Homo sapiens: one gene and its partners. The protein of the gene in region 1 purifies or fractionates together with the protein of each later gene. This does not show direct contact. Each region holds a gene or a part of one and is shown in the gene's direction. Other genes may lie near its edges.

Region 1 (5,211 bases):
AGTGGCTAAGTCAGTAGAGGAGAGAGGCAGTAACTGGTACTAAGGGCCAGGGTTCAAAGCATTAAACCTCATGCCTCAAGGTGGTGTTTCTCACTCCTGAGCACTAGTTAAGGCAAGGATTTCGAGCCCCACTCCCAGAGTTTCTGATTGGGTAGATCTGGCTGGGGCCTGAGAATTTGCACTTCTTATAAGTTCCAGGCGGTGCTGGTGCACACTGGTCGAAGGCAATGCGTGGGAAGTTTTCCTCTTTAATTGTAGAGTGACACCAACCCATGTGACCACTCGGGCCAGTCTTGCTTGTGACAGTTTTTTCTGCCATCAGGAACAAAGTCTGCCCAAACCTTCCCAGCTTCTGCACCAGGGAAGTGGCTACCAGGGAGCAGCTTCGTGTTTAAACACAGCCCCATCTCGTGTAGTGTTAGAAAGGAATGGCCGCAGGCCGGGCGTGGTGGCTCATGCCTGTAATCCCAGCACTTTGGGAGGCCGAGGCAGGCAGATCACTTTGAGCTCAGGAGTTTGAGACCAGCCTGGACAATGTGGCGAAACCCCGTCTCTACAAAAAAATACAAAGATTAGCTGGGCATGGAGATGCGTACGTGTAGTCCCAGCTACTCGGGAAGCTGAGGCTGGAGAATTGCTTGAGCCTGGGAAGTGGAGGTTGCAGTGAGCCGAGATCATGCCCCTGCACTCCAGCCTGGGCGACAGAGTGAGACCCTGTCTCAAAAGAAAAAAAAAAGAAAGACAGTCATGGCCCTGATTGCAGAGAGCTGCAGAAGGTGGAAGGTTCAGTAGCCCCCAGTGCGTCTGGTGGCCTTCCCCCTCTGGCTCAGTGGGCCATGGCCGGCAGCGACAGTCAACAGTGCTACCTGTGCGTTAGCAACAAGTATGGCCTCATTATTTAAAAACTTAGTTATTCCCATTTCACAGATATTGGGGTTTTGTTTTTAAAAATTGATGTAGATCTAGGCCAGGCATGGTGGCTCACCCCTGTAATCCTAGCACTTTGGGAGGCTGAGGTGGGCAGATCACATGAACCCAGGAGTTCAGCACCAGCCTGGGCAACATAGTGGGACCCCAGCTCTACAAAAAATCAGAAAAAATTAGCTGGGCGTGGTGTCATGTGTCTGTAGTCCCGTCTACTCGGGAGGCTGAGGTGGGAGGATTGCTTGAGCCTGGGAGGTCAGGGCTGTGGGAAGCCGTGATCATGCCACTGTACTCCAGCCTAGTTGGAGTCTCAAAAAAATATTCATATAGATCCAGTCCACCCTGGCAGCATTCATTTTCCTCCCTGAAGGTCTGTATGTTTCAAGAGATGTAAGGGGTTTGTTAAAAGGAAATTGGAGGAAGGGGTTCATACCACTGAAGGTTAGTGCCTAAGAGAGGGGCAGGAAGGGGGCCCTGGAGCTCTTCGCTTTACCCTGTGAATGTTCTTGACCTCTGCTGCCCTTGTGCTGCGTCCTTCTCAGTCCACACTTCTGCCTCTTGCCGTGCGTCTCCACTGCCTGTAAAACAAAGTGAACACTGAAGCCTCCCACTAGGGTCCATTGGCTGATGCGTTTCCATTTCCATGGGTTTTCTAACTTCTGGATGAGAGAGTACATTCCTGCAATTGCTAAAGCTAAGTTTCCTATCTGGATTGTAGACAGCTATGGGCAGTAACATGGGCTTTGTTATATTAGTAATAGGGCCCCGGCCAGGTGCAGTGGCTCACACCTGTAATCCTAGCACTTTGGGAGGCCGAGGTGGGCGGATCACGAGGTCGGGAGTTGGAGACCAGCCGGCCAACATGGTGAAACCCTGTCTCTACTAAAAATACAAAAAATTAGCTGGGCATGATGCCGCATGCCTGTAATCCCAGCTACTTGGGAGGCTGAGGCAGGAGAATTGCTTGAACCCAGGAGGTGGAGGTTGCAGTGAGCTGAGATGGTGCCATTGCACTCCAGCCTGGGTGACAGAGCAAGACTCTGTCTCGAGAAAAATAATAATAATAATAGGGCCCCATAGGTTTATTCAGAGAGACTGAGAAAGCTGGAAGAGATTAGCTTTTCCCAGTGTGAGTCATTGCCTCAGGTAGCCTGGAAAATCCTAGCAAACAAAAAGAAGTTTATACAACAACATTCTTTTCATAGCTGGTTTGTATGCATGGCGTCAAACCTTCACCTCTAAAATGTGAACCTTCAAGAAAACAGGATTTCAGGGTTTACTGGAGGGAGGGGATTAGCCTAGGTCTGAGGGAAGAAGAACCTGGAAATGAAGTCAGTGTTTAAAGCTCCTTATATTTACCAGAGTAAAAAGTTGAAAAGTTTCACTTTTGGAACTTTTTAGTCTTTTGTACTGATGCCAGAGTGATCTTTCTGAAGTGTATGTGTTGTGCTTATTCTTTACTGTTAAAACGATATCATGGTTGAAAACTATTAGCTAATTACTGAGTGTTCTTGTGTTCTTACTGTTTTAGTAAAATTAAAACGATTTAAGTATTTGCGTCCCTGCCTCCTCCCATGATTTTCATTGTATTTCTATCATATCATGCTATATCCTTCTGCAAATATCCATACATAACCAGTTAAATGATTTCAGAGGTAGCGAGTCTAGTTGCCTCTGGAAAATTCAGTAGCCAAGCCATAGTGTATTTGCATATTGTAAATGTGAAGTGGATGGGTGTGAGGAATGAATCATATATAGTACAGGACAGCGTGATGCTACAGAGTTGGGCTTTGGAGCATTTGGAGCTGGGTCAGCCCTGCCTCGCTGACTGCTGGCCTCCCCGCCTCTGCATTTTCTCGGCTCCACCGCAGTCAGGGCGAGCCATCTGCTCATGGAGGTGGCTAAGGGCAGAAGGGAAAGCCGCATAAGGCACTTTGCATGCCGTGAGTTCCCAGTCTACAGCAGCTGATGCTACAGCTTCTAAGCGTGAAATCCACATCTAGTTCTGAGTCATAAAGAGTTTCGATACAATCATAGGAACATTCATCTACATACACTGTGATTTCATGAATTTCAGTTTGTTGAAAATCAGGCATCAGTGGAAGGGAGACTGGCCCCGGGGTTAGAATGTCCTTCCAACTGGCTCCTCATGAGGGAGCTGTGGGACCTTCAACCTCTCAACCTCCAGGAGCTCTTCTTTCCTTGCTCATATAACCAGGGGGTTGAGTAGGTCCCCTTGAAAGTTATTTCCAGCCCCCCGGTTCTGTGAGCATATTGTACACACTAACTAGGTTCAGATCAACTTCGGTTAGACTATTAGAGGGAGGTGCACATGTATCCCCCACAGTGGAATCTCATTGGTATTTCATATAATAAGTGATTGACAGAAATAAGGATTTCATTGGGATAAAATCCTACCTGGTCCTCTAAAATAATGATTGCTCAACCAGAGCATACCTTTTCACTATTTGGGAGGGAATTTTTAATCACACAAAAAGCACATACATATCATTCAGGTCATGCTAACCATGTGTATGGAACTAATATTGCTTTGAAGTACTATTTGCAATATATAGAATTTCACACAAAAAACCTACTAGTGCAAAGAGTGAGTAATTCAAATGCATAGTGTTTCCCTAGACTTTATTTTAGTGAATGGGGTTGCAAGAGCAGTTAGTAAGTAGCCATGTTTTAATGTTTTGAGTTCTGTCGTGTTTTATTTTACCAGCAAGTGCCAGTGCTAGTGAGTCTCTAGAAACAAGAGAAAATCCCAGAGTACTAAAGCTGCAGTTTCCAGAAGCAAGGTCTGATTCACCCTTACTTTGTAGATGAAGGGGCAGGAGCTCAGAAAGAAAGGAGCTCATTGCCTGACCCAGGTCACACGGTCAGTCGGTGGTAAAGTAGAGCTCTGACCCAGGCCTCCGGGCTCCAGCTCCTTTCACTGGATCTGGCTGCTGCCTCAGAAGCAAGGGCCTGGGTGATCAGCAGGTTGCACGGTTGAGCTGTGAGAGACCAGAGTCCCCACGCCTGTGGATGACCGGTGGTCCCCTCCATGAAGCCAGCCGCAAGCAAGCAGCAAAGAGCAGAGCTGTAACTTGACTGTTGGCCCCATGGGGATAGAGACCTTTTCTGCTTGGTCTCCAGTGTAGCTCCAGCCCCCTATCCTCGTGCCTGTTGCAGAATAGGTGCTAAGTAAATATTTGTTGACTGAAGGATCATAAAAGAAACCTCCCATATCGGTGATGGAACATTTAGTTAGCATGGCTTCTTTCTTCTTGAAGGTTCTTGAGCACGTGCCCCTGCTGCTGTATATCTTGGCAGCAAAAACATTAATTCTCTGCCTGACATTTGCTGGGGTGAAAATGTATCAAAGAAAAAGGTTGGAGGCAAAACAACAAAAACTGGAGGCTGAAAGGAAGAAGCAATCAGAGAAAAAAGATAACTGAAGGTGAGTCCACAGTACCCAACCTTGCAAATGGGAGCTGGCCAGTGGGTTGGGGTGACCAATCAATGAACAAGAGAGGTCTGAGACCTCCCTGTCCGTCGGGTCTGAAGGGCTGCGTGGGGGCATGTGGCCTCACCTGTTCTCTAAGGTAGAACTGCTCCATAAAGGGCCAGGTGTGCAGATCCTGGTCCTGGGATGTGAGTGCTGCTGAGCCAAGGTGCACGGAGCATTAGTTCATCCTTCTTGAAACCTGCGGTGGCAATGGTTCTTGACAGGTATTGGGTTAAGAATTGAGGACTCAGTGACAGCTGTGGACCTTCTTCCCAGAGAAGCACACATACTGAAACCATCTGCATTTGTGTGTGGGGAGAAGTTTGCAGATGTGGGGAGTCACAGGTCATTTGAAATTCCAAGATTAAGAAACCCTGTTACCTTTAAGATAAAGTCTGACTCCATGGTATGACAAATAAATCCCTTCCCAGTCTGGTCTTAACCCAGACCTCATTTGCCACATGTGCCCACTCCCCATCCCCCTGCAGGCCATTCCTCAGCCACCATGGCCTTTGGCCTTGCTTATTAGGTTCTTCCCAAGGACCTCCTCACCAGGCCTGAGGGTACACTCATCGTTGTCACCCAGTGCCTATCACAGTGCACACTGGTGGGCTTAGAACACACTTGGGGAGTTACAATACATCAAGGCACCAGAAAGTTCCTGTTAAGCCCCTGTTACAGATTTAACACATGACAATTCACAGTTACCTTGATTCCAGTGTGTTGATGCAGTTTCTTCACTTTGCAGGTTGAGTTCTGTACTTTAAAAATCAGGGGATTCAGCCAGGTGT
Region 2 (3,500 bases), on another chromosome or scaffold:
CCTTCCAGGCCATTCCTGGAGGGTGAGGGCCAGCCCGGAGGGAGCCCCGGGGGGTGTGGGGCCATGTGCAGCCTGGCGACCTGGACCTCGGACCTCAGGAGTTGGGGACAGGGACACAAAGTTGGCCCCGACCCCGGCTCCCACGTGGCCGCTGCTGGCTGCACGTCCTCCAGGCACGGCCAGGAGCTCACCGTCATGGAATGCGTGAAACCCAAACCCAGCCTGGTGGAAAATCTGTTTTTAATTTTGGGCCAGTGTCGCTGGGAGCCTGGGCCGAGTGTGCTATGGGTAGGGGCTGGGGCCACGTGTCCAGCTTGGCCGCATGGGGGGCTGAGGCCTAGCCAAAGACTGTGACCCTGGACCCCCCACTTGTGCAAGGGGACCCACGAGGCAAAGGTAGGGGGACCCACTTCCCAGTGGCGGGCCCCTGACATGGGGGTGGTGGTAGTGGCTCGCACACGCCGAGCCCACCCTGGCCTCCCCAAACAAGTCTGGGCCCTAGGGATCCCGCCCCTTTCCTGACCCTGGCCCAGGACACCTGGGGGGTTCTCACAGTGCTGGGGGCCAGAACCCCTCGGTCTGCACTGGGGTGTGGGACCCCAGCCAGCCTCTCAGACACCCCCAAACCTTGTTGCTTCCTCTGGAGGAGGGGCCTTGGGAGTTCCAGGGCTGGAGTTCAGCATCCGTGGAGGCAGGTGGGGGTCACTCCCCTCCCACTCCCACCTCTCGCCTGCCACGTCCTCCCGGAGCCCCGTGCTGCTGCCATACGCACAGGCTCAGGCCAGGGCCTGGCTGGTCCCTGCTGCCAGTGTATCTTCGGCATGCAGGAGACGTTTGCCGCCTGGACCCTGTGCCAGGCCTTGGCTGACACTGTCCCCGGGCCAAGAGTGCCCTCCCCCACCTGTTGCGGTACCCACGATGCTCCCCACAACGGGAGTTTCAGTGACCGCCTCATTCCTCTTCCTGCCTCCCACAGCCTCCGAGCTCACGGGGCCAGCACTGTGGGCACAGGGGAGCCCCCGACCTAGCGCGGCCGAGCTGTCTGTCCAAGCCTGGGCCCCAGCACCCAGCGCAAGCTGCTGCTAAGATGCCCTGGAAGCTGATGCTCCCAATTAGCCCGGAGCCCAGCCAGGACCACAGCCGTCAGTGTGGGGACTCCGTCCCCATCCAGGAAGCCGGGGGTGACTCTGTCCCCACTGCAGTCAGGCTGTGTGGCCGTTACCATATTGTGTGTCTGTCACATGCCGGCACCTCTGGTGGGGTTCTGGCCCCTCAGTGGCCTCTGTGGAGCCTGTCCCTTTCCCTCCTCCAAGCTGTGTCACTTCCACACGGAGCTGGCACGAGGGGCGGGGCAGGGCTGGAACCCACCTTCTGCCCACCCCTTCTCTGGCCACCGGGGGCTGCTTCTCCTGCCACCCCTGCTCACCGTGCCCCGTGGCTGCACCCCTGGGGCTCGCTGGTCTCTCCCAATGCCTCGGGCAGCCATCATCCTCAGCTGTGGTCACGCTGCCTGGCCTGCCAGCTCACCCGCCCCCGCTGTGTGACTGTGGACTCTGGAACTCCCTGTGCCTAGCAGCGTGGCTCCAGGACACGGGCCCTATGTCTTCGCTTCCCTCCCTGCTCAGGGCAGACCCGCAGCAGTGTCCAGCCGAGGAGCGAGCAGCCGTGGCTGGAATGGCAGGGTGGTGGGATCGTGGCCACTGCCTGTGGCTGGGGCTGGAGGCTGCATCGGGCCAAACTTCTCATCAGAGTCCCTGTGAGCACCCCCCAGTGGGCCAGGGCCTCCTCAGCCCAGCCACGCGCCACGGTAGCCCACAGGTTGGTGGCACAGAGCGGCGTGTGGGTCCGTGGCGCAGGGTAGCGGGGTGGGCAGCTGCTCCCAGGCGTGTGCATGTAGAGCAGCCGCCTGTGTGTGTGTGGGGGGGGACGTGTGTTCCATAGGCCGGCCGTGACTTGCTGTGCACCCTCCCGAGTGGCATGCTTCCTCACACGCTGCCAGGCCCAGGTCCTGCCACCAGGTGCTCCGGGAGCCACCAGGATGCCCAGCAGCAGCCACCTGTGCAGGTGGCAGGCAGTGTGCCCTGCCCTGCTGTCATGCATGGCCCTCCCACCTTGGCAGCCTGGTGTGGTGTGGCCTGTGCTGGCGCTGAGCCTGGCATTGCGTTGGGGGGTGCCTGTGTCTGTGTGGCTGATGGGAGTCACGTCCAGACAGGGCCTGGAGGCAGAGTGGGCATGGCCAGGAGGCCGCGGCAGGCGTGGGGCACAGGCCTCACAGCTGCTCGTGCACGTCGTCTGCTCAAGTGCCCCGTGGGCCGTCCTAAGGCCTTGTGGCTCACTGGGCCCTCCCTTCTCCAAGCAGGGCTGGGTTGGGGCCACCCACCTGTGCAGGCAGCCAGGTCAGGTTGGGGGTCTCGCCTTACAAGTGCGGAGCCAGCCGAGGTTCACACAGAGCAAAGGCTGCAGCACCGGGTTTGGGCCTGGGTCTCTAATATCCTGGGGACATCCTGGAGGAGATGGCCTGTGTATGGGGACAATGGGGCTTCCCTGAAGGGGAAGGCTCCAGGCCCAGGGACAGCATATGCCTGGGTGTAGAGGCCACAGAGCCCTGCCCCGAGCCACACCCCAGCCCTGCCCGCTCCTCACCAGCCAGTGCCCCAGGCATCCCTGCCAGGCCAGGGAGGTCTTGCTCTGGCCCAGGGTATACTGGGATCCTATCGGTAGCAACCTGATCTGGGACAGAGTAAGGCTTCAGGCCCCGGCTCTCTGGCTGGCTGGGTGTTTCCAGAGTTGGTGGGGTTTTGGGGGCTGCATTTTGGGGGCTGCGGGGCAGTCGGGGGAGTCTGGGCTCACGGTGGGAGGGGGCATCCCCCATGGATGCCGTCTGTGGCTGTGGGGCTGCAGGGGCTTGGAGAAGGAGGGGGTGGCCCAGGGCCGAGACCAGGAGCCCTAGGGTGGGGGCAGGGGGACTGAGGCTGCAGGAGGGGGTCGCCCCCAGCCCCCTTGGCACATGTGTGGCAGTTGAGTCCTCTCCGTGTGCTCCGCGGAACCCAGCGTGCAGTTTTCGCCTCGCCTGACCGAGCCCTTACATCACTTCCACCACAGACGGAAAATTCCATTTGGTCAGAGCCCAGCTGCTGATCAGACAGTTCCCATTCTTTCTCTGAATGGGCCAGGGAGGGGCGGAGGGGCCGCCAGCCCGGTGGAGAGAGGTGGCTGGGCCACCGTAGGAATGCCGCTGGCCCGGTGCCCCGCAGGAGACCGTCTGCTGGGAATCTGGCTTCGGGAAGTGGGTGCAGAGGCCAGGCTGGCCACGGCACGCTCCCCGCAGACAGCTGGGCTCAGGCCTGGCGCGTTGGGTGCCGGGGCTCTGACGTGGGATGAAGCAGCTGCCCGGTTTGCTGAGCACCCTGACACCCAGGCTCTGCATGCTCGCAGTGGTGGGCTGGGACCCGGGCAGCCCAAGTGGGCTCCCTTTGAGGGAGGCGCCATCTCCTTCCTCA
Region 3 (3,500 bases), on another chromosome or scaffold:
TGCGTTCATTTTAGTTTTGGCTCATGACTAGCATAATTTCACCAAGAAGTTTTCAAAAGAGCTCCACATGATTCATCCCTGATCTTTAATCAGGGATGAATCATAATTATTTCCATGATACAGTTTTGTTATATTAAAGGAAAGGAGAACTAATGAATATTTTCATAGAAGTAGAGAATTTCTGTCCTCCCTTCCCTTCTCCCCACCAAAGGGGAGTCTTGAACTATTAGTTTGCTATGTGAGGTAAAATTCTTTAATTTAAATTACAGCCATATGGCAAATATCCTAAGAAAGTAGTTGTTATTTTTAAATTTCTTTATTGTATAATATTAGTATACTAATTGCAAACATTATTCAAATGTGATAGAAGTTTATATGGTAAAAAGAAAAAGTTTCCCCCATTCATTTTGGGCTCTTTTCTTTGTCTTGAGGCTCCTTTCTACCTTGTACTCCTCAAATTTTCCAGATATAAAATAATTTGATAGTTTGGTGTGGATCATTCCAGATTTTTTCCCCTGTACTTTCATAAACATATAAAATAGATAAATTTTATTAAATTTGATAATACTGCTCATGCTATTTTTTCTTTAACTTGAAACACTTAATATTATGTCTTTCAGTCCTGCCTTAATTTTGCTGTTTGCCCTCGGATCTCTGGGTTTGATTTTTGCGTTGATTTTAAACAGACATAAGTATCCCCTTAACCTGTACCTACTTTTTGGATTTGTGAGTACTCTGACTTTCTCTATTCCCTTAACAATTATTCCTGAGTTTTAAATAAATGCATATATAATACATATATAACAACGGCAGAACAAAATTAATGAGTTTTTTTTAGAGTACTTTAGGAAATTAATTGTAATTTTATAGTCTTTTAAAACTTTTAACAGTTTATTAGTTTCAAATATTAGTATGTAGTGGAAAAAATGCTGAATTGGAATAGATGACCTGGCTTTGCTGCTATCTGATTATGTGACACTTGGCAAGGCATTTATCCTTTCTGTGTCTAAGTTTTTTCATATGTAAAATGAGAATTTTAAAGTAGATAAATCCTTGTGATACCTTCTACCTCTAATATTCTATTATTTTCTTTGGAGAAAATTATGTTGTGGCTTTAATTTCATAAAATTCAAATTCTTTATTGTTAACTCTTCTTTGTTATTATCTTATCACTCTGATCTTTTAAAGAACCATTTTGCTCAAATTATGTGCATTAGTAACTTTTTTCAAAATTATAGTTGGGAGAACCCAACTTTAAGTCATGTATGTTGAGATATTTGTGAAAATTAAAACCCAAACTACCACTTATGAAAATTCAGTTTAGAATATGACCAGAATAAGGGGATAAGCCTCAAGTTATCTGTCTAAAAAATTATTTTGCCTCTTCTCATCCAGTATGACTAGATTCTAACCTAAAAATTTACTTCAGAACATTCCAAAGTAATATTAAGAATACTTGGGTGGGTGCAGTGGCTCATGCCTGTAATCCCAGCACTCTGGAAGGCTGACGTGGGCAGATTGCTGGAGTCCGAGAGTCTGAGACCAGCCTGGGCAACATAGTGAGACCCCACCTCTACAAAAAAATACAGAAATTAGCTGGGCATGGTGGTGTGCACCTATAGTCCCAGCTACTTGGGAGGCTGAGGTGGGAGGATCACTGTAACGGGGTTGCGGGGTGGAGGCTGCAGTGAGCTGAGATCACGTGACTAAACTCCAGCCTGAGTGACAGAGTGAGACCCCATCTCAGACAAACAAAAAAAGAATACTTGTAGTCAAATACGAGTGGGAAAAGCTATTGATTAGATTAAAATGCTTTAAACTAAAAAGTTTATGAATTCTGATAATGAGTTTGTGTTAAAATGAAAAGCTGATGACTTTGAAAGTTTCAGTAATAGGAAAGATTATTCATTTAAATCTTAAGCTCTTTTGTTTGCAAGATTGTCAATTCTAACTCAAGTTATTGCAAATAACAAGGAGTTTAAGGATGTAAGAGCTTGAGAACCCACCAACCCAAATCCTCTTCAAGAAGATGAACTGGAGAACTGGAGGAAGATTCCAGAAATGATGATATCATAGGAAATTCAGTGACAAATGTTTGTGTTCCCCTCTCCCTTGTTCTATTACATCTCTTCTCTACCTCAGTTGTCCTTATACATTGTTTTCCCTTTTTCTATCTTTAATTTTTATATGACCCATTGTTTGCCCCCAGAGTCATTTAACTTTAGCTCCCACTGCCATTGCTTCAATCTCTGAGTTCAGATTCCTGAGTCAGAAAGAATCTGGTCCAGGCGTGGTGGCTCACGCCTGTGTGATCCCCGCACTTTGGGAGGCCGGGGCAGGCATGTTGCTTGAGTTCAGGAGTTCGAGACCAGCCCGGGCAACATAGTGAGACCTTGTCTCTGCAAAAAATACAAAAATTAGCCAGATGTTATGGCACGTGCTTGTAGTCCCACTACTTGGGAGGCTGAGGCAGGAGGATCACTTAAACCGGGAGGTGGAGGTTGCAGTGAGCTGAGATTGCGCCACTGCCCTCCAGCCTCAGTGACAGAGTGAGACCCTGTCTTAAAAAGAAAGGGGGGTGGGAGGGAGGAAGAAAGGAAAAGGAAGGAAGGAAGGAAGAAAGGAGAGAGAAAGAATCTGATTGGTACACTTGGTTGTTGGCACAGGTCACATTGTAGGCTGTTAGTCAATATATGGGTTGCCAGGCCTTGGGTAAGAGCCAACTCCTGGCCTAGTCAGCTATGTCTCAGGAAAGAGGAAGTATAAAAAAAAAGACGGCCATATAGAATTCCTCTTCGCATCTACATGTAGCCTCCTCTCAGAAAGACTGATTTCTGTGTGGGAAGAGGGTGTGGTTCAACTTTTGCCCAGCAGGGAGAGGTCCCACTAGAAAAGTATCAACCAAATGCTTATAGGCAAGATAATCACTGATTGTTAAATCTATTCATCATGCCCATAGCTAAAAATGGTTTAACAAATAAGTATGTACAATACATTTCCTTAAATTACTCAGGGACCTTTAACGTTAGGAGTTTTTTGGTCCTGATCCACCAAGATAAGAAAGGAGGTGAATCTTATCTTGCCCTAGTAGGAGTGTGTGTGTGTGTGTATGCATGCACATAGACAGACAGACAGATAGATAGATAGTCCTCAACTTAGAATCATTCACCTTAATGTTTTCCACTTTTATGATGGTGTCAAAGCAATATGCAACCACGAAATTTCAGACTTTAAGCATTGGTGATTCTTTAACCAAAGACACTCTGAGCTACATTTTTTACTTACGATATTTTCAACTTACAGTGGGGTGTATTGGCATGTAACCCCATTGTAACTCGAGGAGCATGTGTGTATATGTTTTAAAGGGACATTATCATGTTTTCCTAGTCTTATCTTAACTCTTATTTATACCATCCTGTTTCCTTAGATACTTGAATGTGTATGGGATTTCTTTCCTAAAATCTTGTCATAAATAGCAAGAATATAGTATAATCATGTTG

What was found.
Region 2: the proteins of SMIM11 (region 1) and TTYH3 purify together in Homo sapiens (affinity purification with mass spectrometry; one large-scale study listed by BioGRID and IntAct). This does not show direct contact.
Region 3: the proteins of SMIM11 (region 1) and TMBIM4 purify together in Homo sapiens (co-immunoprecipitation; one large-scale study listed by IntAct). This does not show direct contact.

The regions. Positions count from the first base shown.
Region 1 is NC_000021.9:34,381,273-34,386,483, forward strand, and holds part of SMIM11 (small integral membrane protein 11), read left to right. Parts: intron 1-4,205; coding exon 4,206-4,370; 3' UTR 4,371-4,372; intron 4,373-5,211.
Region 2 is NC_000007.14:2,638,486-2,641,985, forward strand, and holds part of TTYH3 (protein tweety homolog 3), read left to right. Parts: intron 1-3,500. UniProt on the Homo sapiens protein: Calcium-independent, swelling-dependent volume-regulated anion channel (VRAC-swell) which plays a pivotal role in the process of regulatory volume decrease (RVD) in the brain through the efflux of anions like chloride and organic osmolytes like glutamate.
Region 3 is NC_000012.12:66,149,497-66,152,996, reverse strand, and holds part of TMBIM4 (protein lifeguard 4), read left to right. Parts: intron 1-620; coding exon 621-726; intron 727-3,500.